Linked DNA regions of Homo sapiens: region 2 is linked to region 1. The links come from fine-mapping of genetic effects on gene expression. Tissue or cell type: fibroblasts. Region 1 holds a variant in brackets; the other region holds the start of a gene. All regions are shown on one strand. Distances are from middle to middle.

What was found. PIP is the estimated chance that this variant, and not a neighbour inherited with it, causes the effect.
Region 2: it holds the start of CC2D1B, and the variant in region 1 is fine-mapped to the expression of CC2D1B in fibroblasts (GTEx, PIP 0.98).

Annotation. Positions count from the first base shown.
Region 1 is chr1:52,644,274-52,654,760 of GRCh38, forward strand. The region is part of intron 2 of SHISAL2A (shisa like 2A); the gene reads left to right. Among named protein-coding and RNA genes, the nearest start is that of SHISAL2A, 16 kb to the left of the region's middle. RefSeq lists a silencer at 7,724-8,018 and an enhancer at 7,724-8,018. The variant C/T (reference allele first, on the strand shown) is at 4,600.
Region 2 is chr1:52,361,137-52,370,232 of GRCh38, forward strand. CC2D1B (coiled-coil and C2 domain containing 1B) reads right to left here and starts at 5,069. Exons shown (of 25, transcript NM_001330585.2): 1 at 4,933-5,069; 2 at 3,416-3,498; 3 at 1,466-1,610; 4 at 377-480. The coding sequence starts at 3,484. It also overlaps the pseudogene PLA2G12AP1. RefSeq lists silencers at 4,669-4,778, 4,819-5,448, 7,431-7,530, 7,591-7,670 and an enhancer at 7,261-7,310.

The DNA.
Region 1 (10,487 bases):
AAAAAGGAGAAAGGCTGTCCCAGCATAGGGTAAGTAGTGGGTACATGTGTGTGGACCGGACTGAGTGAGCCCTCTGCAGTGACAGGGTCATTCACACTGGGCACCACAGGGAATAAGGCCAGGCAGCCTGGGGGAGAAATTTAAGCTAAGCAAAAGAAGTAAGGGTGACAGCCGGTTGTAGTGGCTCATGCCTGTAATCCCAGCACTTTGGGAGGCCAAGGGAGGTGGATCACCTGAGGTCAGGAGTTCAAGACCAGCCTGGCCAACATGGCAAAACCCTGTCTCTACTAAAAATACAAAATTAGCTGGGTGTGGTGGCAGGCACCTGTAATCCCAGCTACTCGGGAGGCTGAGGCAGGAGAATCGCTTGAACCCGGGAGGCGGAGGTTGCAGCAAGCCAAGATTGTGCCATTGCACTCCAGCCTGGGAGACAGAGCAAGACCGTGTCTCAGAAAAAAGTGGGGCCGGGTGCAGTGGCTCATGCCTGTAATCCCAGCACTTTGGGAGGCCAGGGCGGGCGGATCACAAGATCAGGAGATCGAGACCATCCTGGCTAATGCGGTGAAAACATGTCTCTACTAAAAATACAAAAAATTAGCTGGGCTTGGTGGTGGGCGCCTGTAGTCCCAGCTACTCAGGAGGCTGAGGCAGGAGAATGGCGTGAACCCGGGAGGCGGAGCTTGCAGTGAGCAGAAATTGCGCCACTGCACTCCAGCCTGGGCAACAGAGCAAGACTCTGTCTCCAAAAAAAAAAAAAAAAAGAAGAAGAAGAAGAAGTAAGGGTGACAGGAGGCATCGGGGAGGTAGAAGGGGCAAGGTGGGTAGTAGCTAAGTCTCAGAGAAAGAGAGGGCTGAATGCCATCATTTGTAAACACGAATTTTCCAAGTTAACAATAAAAATACAACAAGCAACAGCACAAGAACCCTTCTCAGATCCTGATGACTGTGAATAATCCAGCTGTGACTGAGCAGCAAAAAGCAGGAGGGGTCACTTTTGAGGGTGGAAGGATTCAGCTGGCTCCTCTTGGAGTGAGAAAGACCTGAGAGGCAGTGGCAGGGGAAAAGAAAAACGTCTGCACATAGAACCAGCCTGGTGGAGACCAGAGACAACTGAGGCTTCAACGTTTTGTTTTGTTTTGTTTTGTTTTGTTTGAGACAAGGTCTCACTCCAGTTGCCCAGGCTGGAATGCAGTGGCGTAATCATGGCTCACTGCAGCCTTGCACTCCGGGGCTCAGGTGATTCTCCCACCTCATTCTCCTGAATAGCAGGACTACAGGTGCGTAGCACCACACCTGGCTAATTTTTTGTATTTTTAGTAGAGATGGAGTTTCACCGTCCTGCTCAGGCTAGTCTCAAACTCCTGGCCTCAAGCAATCCACCTGCCTTGGCCTCCCAAAGTGCTGGGATTACAGGTGTGAGCCACCACACCCAGCTGGTTTCAACTTTTATAGAGGTCAATGAAAGACATAAAAGAACCTGACTATATGGGAGATATGGCACATATGTGGATAGAAAGGCTCAATATCATAGAAATGCCAGTTCTTCCTAAATTAACCTATACATAAAAATAAATAAAAATGTTTCATGGAATTTGTCAAATTAATTCTAAAGTTAATCTAGAGGCATACAGGTGCAAGAATGAACAACACAATTTTGGAAAACAAAGAAGAGGAGGGACTTGCTCTATCAGGCAGCAGGACATTTTTTAAAATAAAGGATTTCTGTTTAAAAATATAAGTTTTGTGATATTGGCACAGAAATTGACAAATAGAATTGGGCAATGCAGTGGTTTTAAACTGAGTACAAATTTGTTCCCCTAGGACAATTGGCAATGTATGTAAACATTTTTGGTTGTCACATTCGGGGAAGGGATACTATTGATAACTATTGGTAGAGGCCAGGGATGCTGTTTAACAGCCTACAATAAAGAGGACAGTACCTCACAACAAAGAATTATCTGGCCCAAAATGTCAATAGTACCAGTTGAGAAACCCTAGAGTAGAGAATAGAGTACTAAAGTTGAAAAACCTAGAATAGAAAGAGTCCAGAAACAGACTAATAAAAATATAGGAATTTGTATAAAATGTATAATTTTCTAAAAAATAAAGGAAAAGATTGGCAAATGTCCCTACATCAAGTACAAATAATATGACACTGTATGTGAAGTTAAAAAACAAATGATGGGCTGCAAAGATATTATATTACATTAAATATCTATACACACACACACACACACACACACACACACACACACAATTAGTCCTCATATTCTCCAATTCTGTATTTGCAAATTTCCCTACTTGCTAAAATTTACTTGTAACGTCAGCATCAATACTCAAGGCAATTCTGAGGTCATTTGTAAATGTGGGCACACACAGAGTAGCAAAAAATTTGATTTACACATGTATCCTAGGTGATATTGAATAAGGTATGCTCTGCCTTCTCTTTGCAGCTCTCATGGTACAAGCAAGTGTCTTTTTCTCAGTCTATTTAGTGCCATGGTTTTTGTATTTTTTTATTTTTAATGGGTGATTTCACTGTTTTGTTTTGGTTTATTTTTATTTTCATTTTTTGAGATGGAGTCTTGCTCTGTCGCCCAGGCTAGAGTGCGGTGGTGCGATCTCAGCTCACTGCCACTTCCGTCTCCCAGGTTCAAGCAATTCTCCTGCCTCAGCCTCTCAAGTAGCTGAGACTACAGGCACCCAACATCATGCCCAGCTAATTTTTTTTTGTATTTTTAGTAGACACAGAGTTTCGTTATATTGGCCAGGCTGGTCTTGAATTACTGAACTTAGGTGATATGCCTGCCTTGGCCTCCCAAAGTGCTGGGATTACAGGTGTGAGCCACTGTACCTGGCCTGTTTTTGTTTGTTTTAGAGACATGAGTTTTAGGTTATAGTGCTGTTGGCCATGAGTTCAATGTTAATGAATCAATAACATATTAAATAAGGTCACTTTAAACAGAAACACACATAGAAAAACAAAGTTACATATTGATCAGTTGACAAAAATGTGACCAGAGGCTCACAGGAACATAACCTTGTATTTCCCCTAGGAGCAATAATTCAGTATTTGTTAATTTAGTGTTTGCTGTGACTTTGTAGAATATAACTACCGTGAATAATGAGAATCAACTGTATATAAAACAAGGCAGTATTGATATAAGTACACCTTAAAAGATAAGAAAAATGTAATTTGTTAAAAAAGAAATGCAAATGCCCAATGCACAGGAAAAGATGCTCAACATTACTAATAATCAGGGGAATGCAATTCAAAAATGATACATCCAGGCCAGGCACTGTGGCTCACACCTATAATCTCAGCACTTAGGGAGGTGGAGGCGGGCAGATCACTTGAGGTCAGAAGTTCGAGACCAGCCTGGCCAACATGGTGAAACCCATCCCTACAAAAAATACAAAAATTAGCCAGACATAGTGGCACATGCCTGTAGATCCAGCTACCTGGGGAGCTAAAGTGGGAGGATTGCTTGAGGCCAGGAGGTGGAGACTGCAGTGAGCCAGGATCGGCCACTGCACTCCAGCCTGGGCGACAGATCAAGACCCTGTCTCAAAAAAAAAAAGAAAAAAAGAAAAATCTTTATTAAAAAAAAAAAATTACATTGGCAAATTGGCAAAAGCCCAAAAATGTATCATATTAAAAGTGAGAAGGTTGGAAGGTTGGGATGGGGGAAGCAGGTACTCTCATATACTGCTGGTAAGAGTATGCATTGGTACGACCACTTTACAGAGAATTTTGGCAATATCTATTTAAATAATATATATAATTATATATTAATATATCATATAATTATATATTAACATATCTAATATATAATTATATATAATATATTTCATTATTACATAATTAATTATCAATATTATATAATTGTTAGTTTTATATATATACCCTGTTACTCAGTAATTCTACTTCTAATTAGCTGCCTTAAATAGTTGCATTAGGAGAGGCTTTGTAAAGACAGACATCTTAAGAACCTGTCATATTGGAAACTAAATGTCCATAGGTAGAGGAATGGATCATAAACTGTGGTATAATAGAATAATTAAATATTGATACAATATAGGCAAAAGGAATGAACTAGCTCTAAATGTACCATATTATTTGCTCTTTATGGTAACTGGGTAGGGTATAGATCATGCTATTACTTTCATTTTACAGATGAGGAAACTGAGACCCAAAGTCACCGAATGAGTGACAGAGCCAACTCTCCCCTTCACCCTCCTTCCTCTCCTTATCCCTGTTGCTGTGAAAGGGGCATCCCTACAATGTGCCAGACACTGTTTGAAATTTCACACACACCATCTCCTCTAATCTTTCCAGCTATCCCAGTGAGGTAGGTCTCATTATAACCCAGTTTACAGATGCAAAAATCAGGTCTCAGAGAGCTTAGATGATTTGCACAAGGGTCATACATAGCTTGTGATTGTGGAGCTGGAAATCAAACACGTGTCTTTCTGCCTCCAAAGTCCTGCTCTTTCCATCCTCCTAGAGCAGGACTGTGGGATGTTCTGGCTTGTGCTCTGTGCTCCTAGTCTCACCCCACCCTACCCATCCCCTAATTCCTACTTTTCTGGCTCAAG[C/T]GGAATACAGTTCATCCCTCGGCCCTGTGAATGGAAACCATCCTCCTGCTTTTCACTGCTCAGCCACCAGCTGAATTATTCAGTCACGAGAATTTGAGACAGCATGTCCTCTTGATTTTTGTTTCTTATTTTTAAGAAGAAAAGTGCATTGCCTGACCTTTTACTAAATAACAGCTTTAGGCTCTCTCTGCTTTTTGCTCAAACTCAGCTCTTAGTTCCTACCCTTCTTCTTCATTAAGTGTTGGCCTCTCCTTCCCTCTGCACCCAAAGCATCAACCCAGGAGCTTCCTTCTGCATCTGAGATGGTTACAGGCCCACTCTCTTACATTCATCAGAGCTTTACTGTTGATAGACTTTCATTTCTGTTTGCTCTCTTGCGCTTCAATAGGACATGGAGAGAGGTCTTTACCCCCATTTTATAGCAGAGGAAACCAAGGCTCAGCCAAGGGAAATGAACTAAGTCCACATAGCCAGTGAGCATGTGTCACTGCGATGTCAACCCAGATCTCCCAGACTCTAAAGCCTATGATTGCACTGTCCCTTGGGTTCCTTAGCTCTGAGTATGGAGGCAAGGGTGGGGTGGGGAGTGCCTTGGCAAGAGCAGAGTGTAAATGGAAAAGCAGTTTCTGAAATAGGCTTCTTTCCCTGCCCAGGCATTCTGTACTCTGTCCCATCACCGTCACACCCATCCCATCCCCAAACTTGGGATGGCAATGAAGACCATAACTTTCTTATTCTGGTACTTTGTGAGGAACTGGCTAGATCAGAAAAGTGAGTTCCTACTGTTGAGCTGGGCACTGTGCTAAGGACTTCAAACACATCATCCCCTTTAACCTGCTCAACTACTCTGCCTGGTGATTATTATCAACTCCCATTTTGCAGATGAGGTCAGTGAGGTGAGTGTAGAGGTGATATCTAGGTACATTTAATAAGATACTAAAACATTGGGGGGAAAATTAAGGAGTCCAATTCTTATCCTTTTCTGAAAGTTGTTGGTGAAGAGGTCATTAGTCAGCCATTCTCATCAACTAGAACTCAAAAGCTCCTAGAAATAAAGTCTGATGCTCTCACTGTATAGATGGGGCAGCTGAGGCCCAGAGAGAGGCAGTCATGTGCCTAAGGTCACCCAGCCAATTGGTGGCCAAGCCTTTGCCTCCCAGCCAGAGACCTTTCCCTGCAGCAGCTGCCCCTATACTGCAGAATGACTTTCATCAGCCCCTCCCACCTTCCACAGAAGGCTCAGTCATGTCACCCCAGAGCCCACTGCTTTTTAATTAACCATACTTGAGAGGTAACGCCGAGGAACCAAACATGCTTCAGTCAGTGATGAGTTTGTTTTGACTCCTCCAAGCAGGGGGAAAACCTGAGAACTCCTTTCCAAGCTGGTCACCACAGGCTAGGCCCATGTTCAGGGTTGAGAACCCCAGGTAATGGGGGACTGGCCACGGAGGTCCTTGGAGAAAGGAGGGAAGGCACAGCGCTGGGCAGAGATGCCAGAAAACCTAGTTCTAATCTTGGCCTTGCTGCTGTCAGTGTGTGGCCTTAAGCAAGTCATTTTTCTCTCGGCCTCAATTTACTCTAAAATGTGTACCCTCATAGCTACTAAGAAAGTTGTTGCAAAAACTAGAAATGATGCTTACTGGTATTTAATTAGTCTCAAACACATAGTAGGCTTTTAACAATTAGTGGCTGTCATTTTCATTATTATTAGGCGCTTCAATTTTTACATGTTGGCAATCTCAAACATACCATTTTCTTTTTTTTAAAACCCTTTTTTTTTTTTTTTTTTTGAGACAGAATCTCCCTCTGTTACCCAGGCTGGAGTGCAGTGGTGTGATCTTGGCTCACTGCAACCTTCGCCTCCCGGGTTCAAGCAATTCTCCTGCCTCAGCCTCTCATGTAGCTGAGGCTACAGGCACCTGCCACCACACCCGGCTAATTTTTGTATTTTTAATAGAAACGGGGTTTCACTGTGTTAGCCAGGCTGGTCTTGAACTCCTGACCCCAGGTGATCCACCCGTCTCAGCCTCCCAAAGTGCTGGAATTACAGGCATGAGCCACCACGCCTGGCCTAACCTTTTTTTTTTTTTTAACAGCTTCCCACATAAGCCAAAAATGTAATGTAATTGCTAAAAAAAAAAGTGAGTGGAACCTCAGGTCACATTAACAGAGTATAAGGTCTGGAAGCAAAGGAGTGATGATCTATATTAACTTTCAGTTGGATAGAACTCACCAGCCATCACATCTCAGAAATAACTTTTTATCGTCTACTCTGTAGGTTCCCAACTTTGGTTTCCAATTTCCTGAGGGTCCCCAAACATAGCAGTGGGGATTCTTGAGCAATCTCCAATATTGCAAAGGTTTTTTGTTTTTTGTTTTTTTTGAGACGGAGTCTCGCTCTGTTGCCCAGGCTAGAGTGCAGTGGTGTGATCTCTGCTCACTGCAACCTGCGCCTCCCAGGTTCAAGCAATTCTCTGCCTCAGCCTCCCAAGTAGCTGGGATTACAGGCCCCTGCCATCACGCCTGGCTAATATTTGTATTTTTAGTAGAGACGGGGTTTCACCATCTTGGCCAGAGGCTGGTCTTGAACTCCTGACCTCGTGATCCACCCGCCTCAGCCTCCCAAAGTGCTGGGATTGCAGGTGTGAGCCACTGTGCCCGGCCCAACAATTTTTGTTTTCTTTTTTTTTGAGATGGAGTCTCACCCTCTTGCCCAGGCTGGAGTGCAATGTTGCCATCTCGGCTCACTGCACCCTCTGCCTCCCAGGTCCAAGCAGTTCTCCTGCCTCAGCTGGCTACAATATTGCAAAGGTTTTACAGGGACCAAGTTTCTTCTCTTTGAGCTAGAATTATATCAGTTCCAGGGGGTAATTAACATAGGTGCTCTCCTGCTGATCAGAGCTCTTTGATTAATACAGAATGGAAAAAATTAGTACTTAATAAATGCAGTCTATTATGTAGACAGAATCCTTCAGAACTTGGAGTTCAAAGGGAAAGAAGTAGAAAAATTAGGCCAGTTGTATTTTCTACACCATTTTATGAAGTAGTAACAGATCTAGAGAGGTGAAGGGTTTGGCACAAAGTAGCACAATGATTTAATATCAGAATGAGGACTTGAGCCAAGGTCTTGTAACTCCTGGAAGCCCAAGGGATTCCCCAGAGCCCTGGCTGGCCAGTTGCTCAGAGCCCCATAATGTGAGATGGACTTTGACCAATCAGATGATCAGAGGCAGGTGACTACTTCAGATCTGGGAACCAGGTCATGTGAGGATTAGGTAAAGAGCTGGGGATAGTTGGCCTTGAACAGAGGAGACTCTGGGCTCACAGCCTAGGGCCTCAGATCTCTGCAAGGTTGTTCTGGGACAAGAGGATCAGACATTTTTATGAGAATCGAGAGAACAGAGCTGAAATCAGTGGGGAAAGCCATAGGGAGATGGATGTTGAGTCAATAAAGGTAGAACTTATTTAGAGTATACCTGAAATACTGCAAAAAGAACTCCATCACTCTGGGCCATATTTCACTCACAAATTCGTAATCCTTTACAAATTTGTTTTGTTTTTTAACAAACAAGTTTTTTTGTTTTGTTAAATTGTTTTGTTTTGTTTTTTAAAAAAGCACCTCTATCCATGGAAGGTAATCAGGAAAAGGCTAAATATGGGATTCAGCTAAGGGGATTCTTGTATTGAAGAGAAGGTTGAAGTAAATCCCTGTACAAGTTGGAATGCCTTAAAATGAAAGCTTAAATAACAAAGAATCCCAAGGAGTCTATAAAACGTGCACAAAATAACCTGTTAGAACAAAGTGTGTTTGGGCCGGGCGCAGTGGCTCACACCTGTAATCCCAGCACTTTGGGAGGCCCAGGAGGGTGGATCATGAGGTCAGGAGATTGAAACCATCCTGGCTAACACGGTGAAACCCCATCTCTACTAAAAATACAACAAAATTAGCCGGGCTTGGTGGCGGGCACCTGTAATCCCAGCTACTCGGGAGGCTGAGGCAGGAGAATGGCATGAACCCTGGAGGGAGAGCTTGAAGTGAACAGAGATCGCGCCACTGCACTCCAGCCTGGGTGACAGAGTGAGACTCTGTCTCAAAAAAAAAAAAAAAAAAAAAAAAAAAAAAAAAGAACTAAGTTTGTTTAGCAAGGTCACAGTAAAGTCAAAACCAAACATCAATTGTATTTATATATACTACTAACAAAAAATTAGAAACCCAAACTAAAAACACAATAATACCATTTACAGTTACTCTAAAATAAATGAAATACTTAGGTAAAATTTAACAAAACATGTACAGGTTCTGTATGTTAAAAACTACAAAATCCCTCCACTTTGGGAGGCCAAGACTGGAGGATCGCTTGAGCCCAGGAGTTCGAGATCATTCTGGGCAACATGACAAGACTCCTGTCTCTACAAAAAAAAAAAAAAAAAAAAAAAAAAAAGCAGGGTATGGTGGCATGTGCCTGTAGTCCCAGCTACTGGGAGGCTGAGATGGGAGGATTGCTTTAGCCCAGGAGGCGGAGGCTGCCATGAGCCCAGATCACACCACTGCACTCTAGTCTGGGTGACAGAGCAAGACTCTGTCTCAAAAAAAAGAAAACTACAAAATGCTTAGCCGGGCATGATGGCATGTGGCTGAGGTGGGAGGATCCCTTGAGCCCAAGAGTTCAAGGCTCACTTGTAAGCTATGATCATGTCACTATACTCCAACCTGGCAACAGAGGGAGACCCCTGTCTCTAAAAATAACCAACCAAACAAAAAAAAAACTACAAAATGCTGATGAAGGAAATCAAAGAAGACCTAAAATGGAGAAATACACTATGTTCATGAATTGCAAAACTCAACATAGTAAACATAAAAATTGCAACCCGCCCTTTTTTTTTGAGACAGGGCCTTGCTCTGTTACCCAGGCTGGAGTACAATGGCACAATCTAGCCTCAACTTCCTGGGCTCAAGTGACCCTCCCACCTCAGCCTCCCAAGGAGCTCAATGGAAAAGAATTCACAGAAAATTAGGCCAGTCGTATTTTCTGTTCCATTTTATGAAGTAGTAACCGAGATCCAGAGAAGAGAAGGGTTTGGCACAAAGTAGCACAACGTTTAATACCAGAATGAGGACTTGAGCCAAGGTCTTGTAACTTCTGGAAGGCTTGGCTGGCAGCTGCTCAGACCCCCACAATTGGAGAGGGATCACCACACCCTGTTAATTTTTTATTTTTGTAGAGATGGGTTCTTGCTATGTTGCCCAGGCTGGTTTTGAACTCCTGGGCTCAAGCAATTCTCCCTTCTTGGCCTCTCAAAGTGTGGGGATTACAAGTGTGAGCCACTGTGCCTGGCCAAAATGGCAGTTTTATAGATAGATAGATAGATAGATAGATAGATAGATAGACAGATAGATAGATAGATAGATAAGCTAATTCTCAAATTTATATATAGAGAGACAAAGGAACTAGAATAGCTAAAGTAATACTGAAAAAGAATAATGAAGTTGGAGGAAATCACACTACTCAATTTTAAGACTTATTGTATAGCAACAATAATAAACAGTAAGGAGGATAGTGTGGTATTGGAGGAGGGACAGACACATGCATAGATCAAAATATGGTCCAGAAGTAGACTGACATCATAAGGTTGTCCAACAGATTTTTGATGAAGGTGCAAAATCAATTCAACTGGGGAAGATAGTCTTTTCAATAAATGGTGTTAAAACAACTAAACTTCCATAAGTAAAAAATAAACCTTTACCTAGATCTCACACCTTGTACAAAAATTATCTCAAAAAAGATCTAAATGTAAACCAAAAAACTCTAACACTTTTAGAAGAAAACAGGGAAAAATCTTCATGACATGCGGTTATGCAAAGAATTCTTAAACAAGACATCAAAAGC
Region 2 (9,096 bases), 280 kb before region 1:
GGAGACAAAACACAGCCCAGGAGCTTGGGGGCCTCAAGACCATACCCACAACAGGACCTGAGAGTAAAGGACCCTCTCTCTCAGCAATATTCCCTAACGTCAGTCACTGTGCCTGAGTCCCCTTCACCAAAACATTTCTTTAATCTGACCGAGGATAGCCTTGAAAATAGTAATTACTCCAAATCTGAGAATCCCCAACTGCAGAGCTTAGACCAGAAGTCAAAGAGACACGCCACCCACTGTACAGCCAGGAGGGGCAAGCACTCACTCAGAGTCAGAGAATACAGGGGCACCCCCAGCCTCCTCTCCACTGCCCTCTCCTCCACCAGGCCCAAGCTTGCCTCAGAGCCCTGGGATACCAGCCTGGCAGACACACCAGCAGCTCTGCATCTTCCTCCAGCCCTTCCTCCTCCTCCTCCTCCTCCACATCCCGCATACAGTCTGCCGCCAACTTCTCGATGTGGGCCATGGGCAGGGGGGCTGGGGGAAAAAGGTCACAACAAGTCAGCACAACTCAGATAAGTTCAGGGATGAGTAAAGGAGGGGCTTGGTAGATCCACCCAGGCAGAAATCCCTCTTCCCTCCCACAGCAGAGTCCCACCTGGAAAACTGCTCTTCCTTTAAGACCCAGTTCAAAAGACCCTCAACAGGGAAACCTTCCTTGGCCCCCCACCAAGCAACAAGCTGCTCCTTTCTCTGCACCTCTGCCTACGGTAGCCTGACATAGACATGGCCATCCACTCTCTCCAACCTCCAACAACACCTTTCACATCTGTAAAGATTTTCAAAGTCCAACAGAGCTTCAAAACAAATCTGCAAGATGGATAATATCCCCTTTTCATATATTGAATAAACTGAGAAACTTCCAACATTAATTTTCCTATCACTGCAATCCTTAAGTGGCAGAGCTAGGATTCAAACCTAGGCTTGTGCCACCCCAAGGCAGGAGCAGTGAGCCCCTTCCTAGGTCCTCCCATTATCCTCAACTCAGGGACACACAGGATGGTGGGGGATGAGTGGGGGGATTCTCTGAGGGTTCCCGGTGAAAAGAGAGGACGATTTAGACCTCCTGATCCTCCCAGGCCTGAAGTCTCTGTTCTCATCTGGGCTGTGGAGGGAGATTCCACTTAACTCGCTGGACACAATTTCTATGTACTTCCTATGTACCCAGTTCAGTCTGTGCTAACTGGGCCCCTACCCTACACCAATACCGTGGCTAGGGCTAAGGATGGGGACCTGAGTCAGTCTGAGAAACACATTTGTCCACAATGGGGAGGGGCCAGCCCAGGCCATGACACAAGGTGGGGAAGCAGGGCGAGGCCGCCTCTTGGTGGGAGTGCGGCAGATGGGTATTGGAAGGACCAGGGGATCTGGCTGGCTCCGTCCAGCTGCAAGGGAACCCCTCTACCACCAGCCTGTGCCCATCTTGTCCCAGCACCAAGACCAGCCCTGTGTCCAAACTCACCCTGCCCCTTGGGTGCTGGCTTCTTGCCTGTGGTTTGTGCTTCCCCTGTGAGAGCCAGCAGCTCAGCCTCCAGGTCCTCATCATCTTCAGCCTCATCCATGCCCAGCAGCATGTCCTCAGGGCCAAACTCCATAAAGAGCCCCATCTGAGAGCAGAGCAGGACTCTTAGGAACCACACAACAAGCAGGGTAGGGTCCAGCTCCAGAGCCAGACTTGGGGCTCTCCAAGTCCCAATCAGTGGCTCCTTCAGTCTGTGAGGCCCAATGTGCAGAAAGAAACTGAGGCCTGCAACATTACTCCTTGAGACACTTACCTTCCTAGGGACTCAACAAAAAACCCAGTAAGACCACACTGAAACTGAGACAGTCTTGTGAGTCAGAATTTAAAACACACTACCATTATTACAACCAACAGCAATAGCTGCCATCATGCACTGTTCTTAGCGTTCTATGTGATTATCTTAACCACCTCAGTTAATTCTCACAATTCTGAGAAGAAGGTCCTATTTTTTGGCCAGGCGCGGTGGCTCACGCCTGTAATCCCAGCACTTTGGGAGGCCGAGGCGGGTGGATCACGAGGTCAGGAGATGGAGACCATCCTGGCTAACACGGTGAAACCCCGTCTCTACTAAAAAATGCAAAAAATTAGCCGGGCGCGGTGGCGGGCGCCTGTAGTCCCAGCTACTCGGGAGGCTGAGGCAGGAGAATGGCGTGAACCCGGGAGATGGAGCTTGCAGTGAGCCAAGATGGCGCCACTGCACTCCAGCCTGGGCGACACAGCGAGACTCCGTCTCAAAAAAAAAAAAAAAAAAGAAGGTCCTATTTTTTTAAACTCTGGTAAAACACATACAACATGAAATTTACCATCTTAACCACTGTTAAGGGTGAGTTCAATGGCATAAGGACATTCACAATATCCTGCTACCATCGCCATCATCCATCCACAGAACTGTTTTCATGTTGTGAAACAAACTTTCTACCCATTAAACATTAACCCCCCTTCCTCCCCTCCTTCCAGCCTCTGGTAAGCACCATTCTTCTGTTTCCATGAATATGACTACTCTAGGTAGAGGTACATCCTTTTTTTTTTTTTTTTCTGAGACAGAGTCTGGCTCTGTCGCCCAGGCTAGAGTGCAGTGGCACTATCTTGGCTCACTGCAACCTCTGCCTCCCGGGTCTAAGCGATTCTCCTGCCTCAGCCTCCCAAGAAGCTGGGAATACAGGCACATGCCACCACGCCCAGCTAATTTTTGTATTTTTAGTAGAGATGGGGTTTCACTATGTTGGCCAGGCTGGTCTCAAACTCCTGACCTCAGGTGATCCACCCACCTCGGCCTCCCAAAGTGCTGGGATTACAGGCGTGATCCACGGCACCCAGCTTACATTCTGTTTTTATCCCAATGTTCAGATGAAACTGAGACAGTCTTGTGAGACAATCAGAATTTAAAACAAGCTCTTTGCGACTTGAGTCTATGCCCTTTACCCCACCTCCTTTCTTACCTGCCTTTTTAAAGACAGTAAAAATGGACTAAGAAGTCTCAAGATGTAGGCCCAGAAGAAATAAAGGAAGAAAATTGGAGAGGAGACCCCCCTGTTCTTCCACTTGGGGCACAGCCATCTGTCCCTAGGCAGTGAAGTCCTCCCACTGACTACAGCCCTCATGCCCTGGCATCCCTGGCTAACAAGCAAAGTTGTGACCCTATCTAAGGAACCTTTGAGAGCACTGAGGTCCCATCAGAACATCCTAAACTTTGGTGATTCCTGAACCCTCTCCCCACTTGTATGTGGAAGAGACTAGTAGGAGGGTGTCTAAGGGCTCTGCCACCTCCAGGAGGCACTGCTCCAAGTCTCTGAACTAATGGGGGAACTACATGTGATCCAGTTTGCCTAAGTTGTCTAGGGACCCCCATCCCCAAACCGACCCAGTAGCCTAGAAGGCTAAGTTCCATACCTGCTTGGCAGCGGCCACCCCTTGGCCTCTGGCCTGAGGGCCCTTCCGAGGTCTTGGCCCTGGCATCATGGCAGCCTAGATACCTATGGAAGAGTTACAGAGATTCAGGCTGGAGTAGCCCATAAGCCACGCCCCCAACAGTGCTACCCGTGGTAAGGTGTGGATAGTAAACTCCCAAAGAAGGCAATGCTGAACACCAAAGTATGGGTTACCTTTAATTAAAGCACTGAAGCAGCACAGGCCATGGGAGGGATGGGGATCACCTGTTAATGGGTTTACTGAGGAATGTTCTGAACGGACTCAAATTTAAAAAGCACATTCAGGGAAGTACTCTAGGTTCAGGGTGGGTGGAAGGCTGGGTAGAATTCAGAAAGGCTCTAAAGCTGTGCTTATGGAAGCCACAGCTGGCTATTTAATTTTAAATTTCAATGAATTAAAATGAAATAAAGCTAAAAATCCAGTCCATCAGCCACAACAGACACATTCCAAGTGCTTAACAGCCATATGTGGTGAGGGGCTATGACCAGACAGCACACACACAGAACATTTTCATCATCCAAGGACATGTCATCAAAGTTCCATCTCACAGCTGAGCTCTGGAGAAAGCTGGCTCAGCATTCTGATTCCCATAAAGATCTCACAGTTATTCACAGGACCTCCTGTGTCAGACCTTGCGCTGGGCACTGGGAGCGCAGAAATGAACCTAAGACGGTCTCAGCCTTCAATGACCATTTACAGGGTGGAGGTGGACTACACGGGGTTGCCCCAGGGGCCATGGGTGCCCTGAGGTGACCCCTTCTTCAGCCCTGGGAGAAAAGGCTCCTCCTTCGAGGCGGTGACGCCTGAGCTGAGTCACGCAAAGAAGTTGGGGGAAAGAGGGAAATAGGATTCCAAGACGAGGGAACACTTGACGGCTCTGAAGTGGGGAGCAGCTTGGCCTGTACAATGGAACCTGAGGCCTGGTATGACTGGGGCATAAGCGGTGAGGCCTGAATGCACAAGCCGAGGTGGAAATGTGAGCAAGCGGCAGAATATGAAAACCTCTAAGCCGAAAAGCGTTTGGGCATTATTCTGAGGGCGCTGGGAAAGAAGTGGCGGGATCGTATCGGTGTTTCAGAAACCCCATTCTGGCACCAAAGGGGAGGTGCACAGAAGGTAGGGGGAAAAGGCAGGAAGCCGGCGCATCTCGCCACAGCGCTGGCGGGGAGACCAGCTGACGGGCGTGGAGGCGGCGGGGAGCGGGCGGAGGAGCTGGCGGGCGCTCCGGGGGACTCTGAGTGTCAGATTTCGGGAGTGACTCCGGCTCAGGTGAAAGCGAGGCCAGACACTCCAAGGCTGCGGCCCCGATGACACAGCCAGGCCTCACGGAAGGTGGGCAACGGAGTCCGTAGGGGGAGGCGACACGGGACCCCCACTCCCGCGCTGCGGGACGCGCCGCCCTGCCCCGCCCGCGCCGCCTCCATCTACCCCCGCGGTCCCCAGAACTCCCCACGCCGAGGGGCGGGGACGCGGCATACCTCGCGGTGAATCCGAGCCAAACCCCGGCCTTGTCTCACCCGGCACCGCCCTGGGCTCCCGCGGGCCCTGGGCCGCAGCGGTAGCGACAGGAAGCGCCAGCAGGGGAGGTGGCTCGCGCGCAACACGTGACCCCACTGGCCGGCGGCCGGCAGTGCGCATGTGCACGGCTACGCGGGCGGGGGGCTCCAACAGGTGACACCGGGGCGGGGTTCGCAGCGCGCAGGCGCGTTCGGGTAGGTAGCGCAGGACAGGAACTCTGGGCGGTTCCGCCGGGGCGTCCACCGGCCGGCTCCAATGAGGTCGCTGCGCCCAGCCCTCGCCCACTTGCAGCCTCTCCACCGAACCTCCTCCCTCACTCAGCCCGAGGCGCTGGGCGCTCGCTCGCTCGCTGGACCTACCCCGCCTCCAGCCCTCGCCCCGCCCCACCGAGCAAGAGGGCGGGGCCTACCCAAGCTCCGCCCTGGAAGAGAGACAGGGGCGGGGCTCACCTGCTTGTCCATGTCCTTTAAGCCTGGGGAAATGGAAATGGGGCCCACCATATGTTTCTTAATAATTCAGCACCTGAAAGTATCCTTTTCCGGTCCGTTGAAAACTTCAGACAGGCAGAGCTCGCTGCACATCTTAAATACTTTACAGAGTCTAACACTAAGTTCTCACTCGCCTACCCTGCTGTGCAATCAAATGGCATGGAGGATATTAAGGAGAGAAACGGAGTATACCCGTTTTCTGCCAAGCTTGTGTCAGTCACTTTTCATAATGGAGCTTATACCAGTTCTCAATCCTGCAAGATGGACATCATCTCTAGAAGAAACGGAGGCTCAGAGAGAATTATTTGCCCAGGGAAATACAAAACCAACCTCTTTAGCATCAGTAAATATGCTCTAGTCTAGTTTTCTAAGGAAAGCACGTTTCTCCCTGCGGCTTGCAGAGTCCAGTTAACAAGAGATTGAGCTCAGGAGTCCGAGACCAGCCTGGGCAACATGGCGAAACCCTGTCTCTACAAAAAATTACAAATATTAGCCGGGTGTGGTGGTGCGTGCCTGTAGTCCTACCTACTGAGAGGCCGAGGCAGGAGAATCGCTGTGGCCCCGGAGGTCCAAGCTGCAATGAGCTGTCAACTGCACTCCAACCCGGGTGACAAGGTGAGACCCTGTCTCAAACTAAAACAAACAAAAAAACCGAGAGCGGAGTAATGGGGAAGTGGCCAGATTCCCATCTAAAGTAACCACTTCGATTTTGGGGGGAAAGAGAACGGCTTAAAAGGAAAATTTGATATGGGAAGCATGCAAGAATTGTACAGAGTACAACGTCTGTGTGTCTTGTTCTGGTGGCTATCTTGGGTCCCAGCCTACCTGGAGCGTGGGCTGGTCTCATCTCCACAATGGCCCCGCTGTTGACTAGCCACCTTGAAGTAATCTTTGGAATTTTGCAGCTGTGTCTCCAGGCTTGGTTTGTCTGTCTCAAGATTAGCCCTTGGAACTTCTCAGAAGGCAGATAATTAAATACTAGCATACAGTAAGATAAATGTGAAGGGAGTATATACAGTGAGAAAGGGAGGGATATGGGGTCTATTTTACAGCTAAGGGAAAAGGCTTTTGCAGTTTGCTTCAAGGTTGTATCTTGAAACCCAAGAGAAAGGAAAAAAAGTTTTAAAATGTATTTTAAAGTTAAACTGCTGGATTAGTTTCTTCTGTCTAAAACATTGCCATCTCCTCTCCTGCCTATGCCTTGAACTTTTAAATTATGTTTTCTAGTTAGCGATCTCCCAGTTTACTTGGACAAAGGGCTTTTCCATCTCCTGATTGCTTACTTTTTTTCTTTTTTTTTTTTTTGAGACAGGATCTCATTCTGTCACCCAGGCTAGAGTGCAGTGGTGCGATCTCCACTCACTGCAACCTGCACCTCCCAGGCTCAAGCAATCCTCTCACCTCAGCCTCTTGAGTAGCTGGGACCACAGGCACGTGCCACCATGCCCAGCATTTTTTTTTTTTTTTTTGTAGAAACATGTTTTTGCTATGTGCCCAGGCTGATCTCAAACTCCTGAGCTCAGGGGATCAACCCACATCAGCCTCCCAAAGTGCTGGGATTACAGGCGTGAGCCACCATGCCCTGCCCATTACCATATTTAAATTGAGATTTCACATCCATATTTCTCATTCCTTTTAAAATTATTTAAAAATTTTTATAATGAAACATTTAAGATATAAACAAAGATACACAATATTTAACATTTACTAGAATGCAAGCTCCAGAAGGAGAAATTTTTTTATTGCTTCTCCAAGTGTCTCGTGTCTACAGCAGTGCATGGTACATAGTAGGCACTCAATAGTTCCTTGTTGTGTGAATTAACTACATGGACATCTATTACCAGTTTAAGGGAAAAAAAAAAGCAGGTGAGCGGGCGCGTCCCCGCGACCGCGCTGCCTCCCCGAGGCGGTTCACGTAAAGCCAGCGAGGCCCTGCCTGCCAGCCGGGAAGGAGGCGTGGTTATGGAGCTGGCGGCTGCAACCCCGGGGCCCGCGCCGCTGCCTAGCGCTTCCCGGGGGCTCTTTGGGGACGCGCCCCCCGCCGCGGCTCGGGGACCCGTAGAGCCCGGCGCTGCGCGGTTGGCCCTTCTCCCGCGCCCCGCGCTCACCCTCCTGCTCCTCCTCATGGCCGCTGTTATCAGGTGCCTGGAGCAGGCCTAGACCACCGACTGGAGGGCCACCCTGAAGACCATCCGGAACGGCGTTCATAAGATAGACACGTACCTGAACGCCGCCTTGGACCTCCTGGGAGGCGAGGACGGTCTCTGCCAGTATAAATGCAGTGACGGATCTAAGCCTTTCCCACGTTATGGTTATAAACCCTCCCCACCGAATGGATGTGGCTCTCCACTGTTTGGCGTTCATCTTAACATTGGTATCCCTTCCCTGACAAAGTGTTGCAACTAACACGACAGGTGCTATGAGAACTGTGGCAAAAGCAAGAATGACTGTGATGAGAAATTCCAGTATTGCCTCTCCAAGATCTGCCGAGAAGTACAGAAAACACTAGGACTAACTTAGCATGTTCAGGCATGTGAAACAACAATGGAGCTCTTGTTTGACAGTGTTATACATTTAGGTTGTAAACCATATCTGGACAGCCAACGAGCCACATGCAGGTGTCATTATGAAGAAAAAACCGATATTTAAAGGAGATGCTGACAGCTGGTGACAGATGAAGACGGAAGAACATAACCTTTGACAAATAACTAATGTTTTTACAACATAAAACTATCTGATTTTTGTGAAAAAAGAAAAACAAACATAGTTGGAGCTACCTGTACATCTCCCATATTGCAACACCTCCCTTTCCCAAAGATGTACCCATTATCCTAAATTTAGTGTTTATTATTCCTGAGCATTTCTATTTCTGTGTAGGTATCCTTAAGCAATACATAGTATTTTTTTTGCCAGCTTTTAAAAATTATATCATTGGTTACATACAGTGTAATTCTTCAACCTTTTTCTACTCAACCCTGTTTGTAAGCTTCACTCAAATTGACATGTATACTGTATCTAGTTAGCTGATTTTCATTTCTGTTATGATTCCATAGCATGAAAATAAGTCACTTTCCCAATGGCTTACCATTATAGAGTGCTATGAACTTTTTGTATATGACTCTTGGTGTACGTATGTGAATTTCTCTAGAGCATATACTTAGGAATGGAATTGCTGGCTGCATTAGTCAGGTTTCTCTAGAGGAACAGAACTAATAGGATATATATATATATATATGTGTGTGTGTGTGTGTATATATATATGTGTGTGTGTGTGTATATATATGTGTGTATATATATATATGTGTATATATATATATAGTCCCACAATAGGCTGTCTGCATGCTCTATTAACCATCACACTGGCTGATATGGTTTGGCTCTGTGTTCCCACCCAAATCTCATCTTGAATAGTAATCCCATAATCCCCATGTGTCCTGGGAGGCATCTTGTGGGAGGTAATTGAATCATGGTTTCCTTCATGCTGTTCTTGTGATAGGAGTGAGTTCTCACGAGATCTGATGGTTTTATAAGCATCTGGCATTTCCCCTGCTGGCACTCATTCTCTCTCCTGCTGCCCTGTGAAGAGGTGCCTTTCACCATGATTTTAAGTTTCCTGAGGGCTCCCCAGCCATGTGG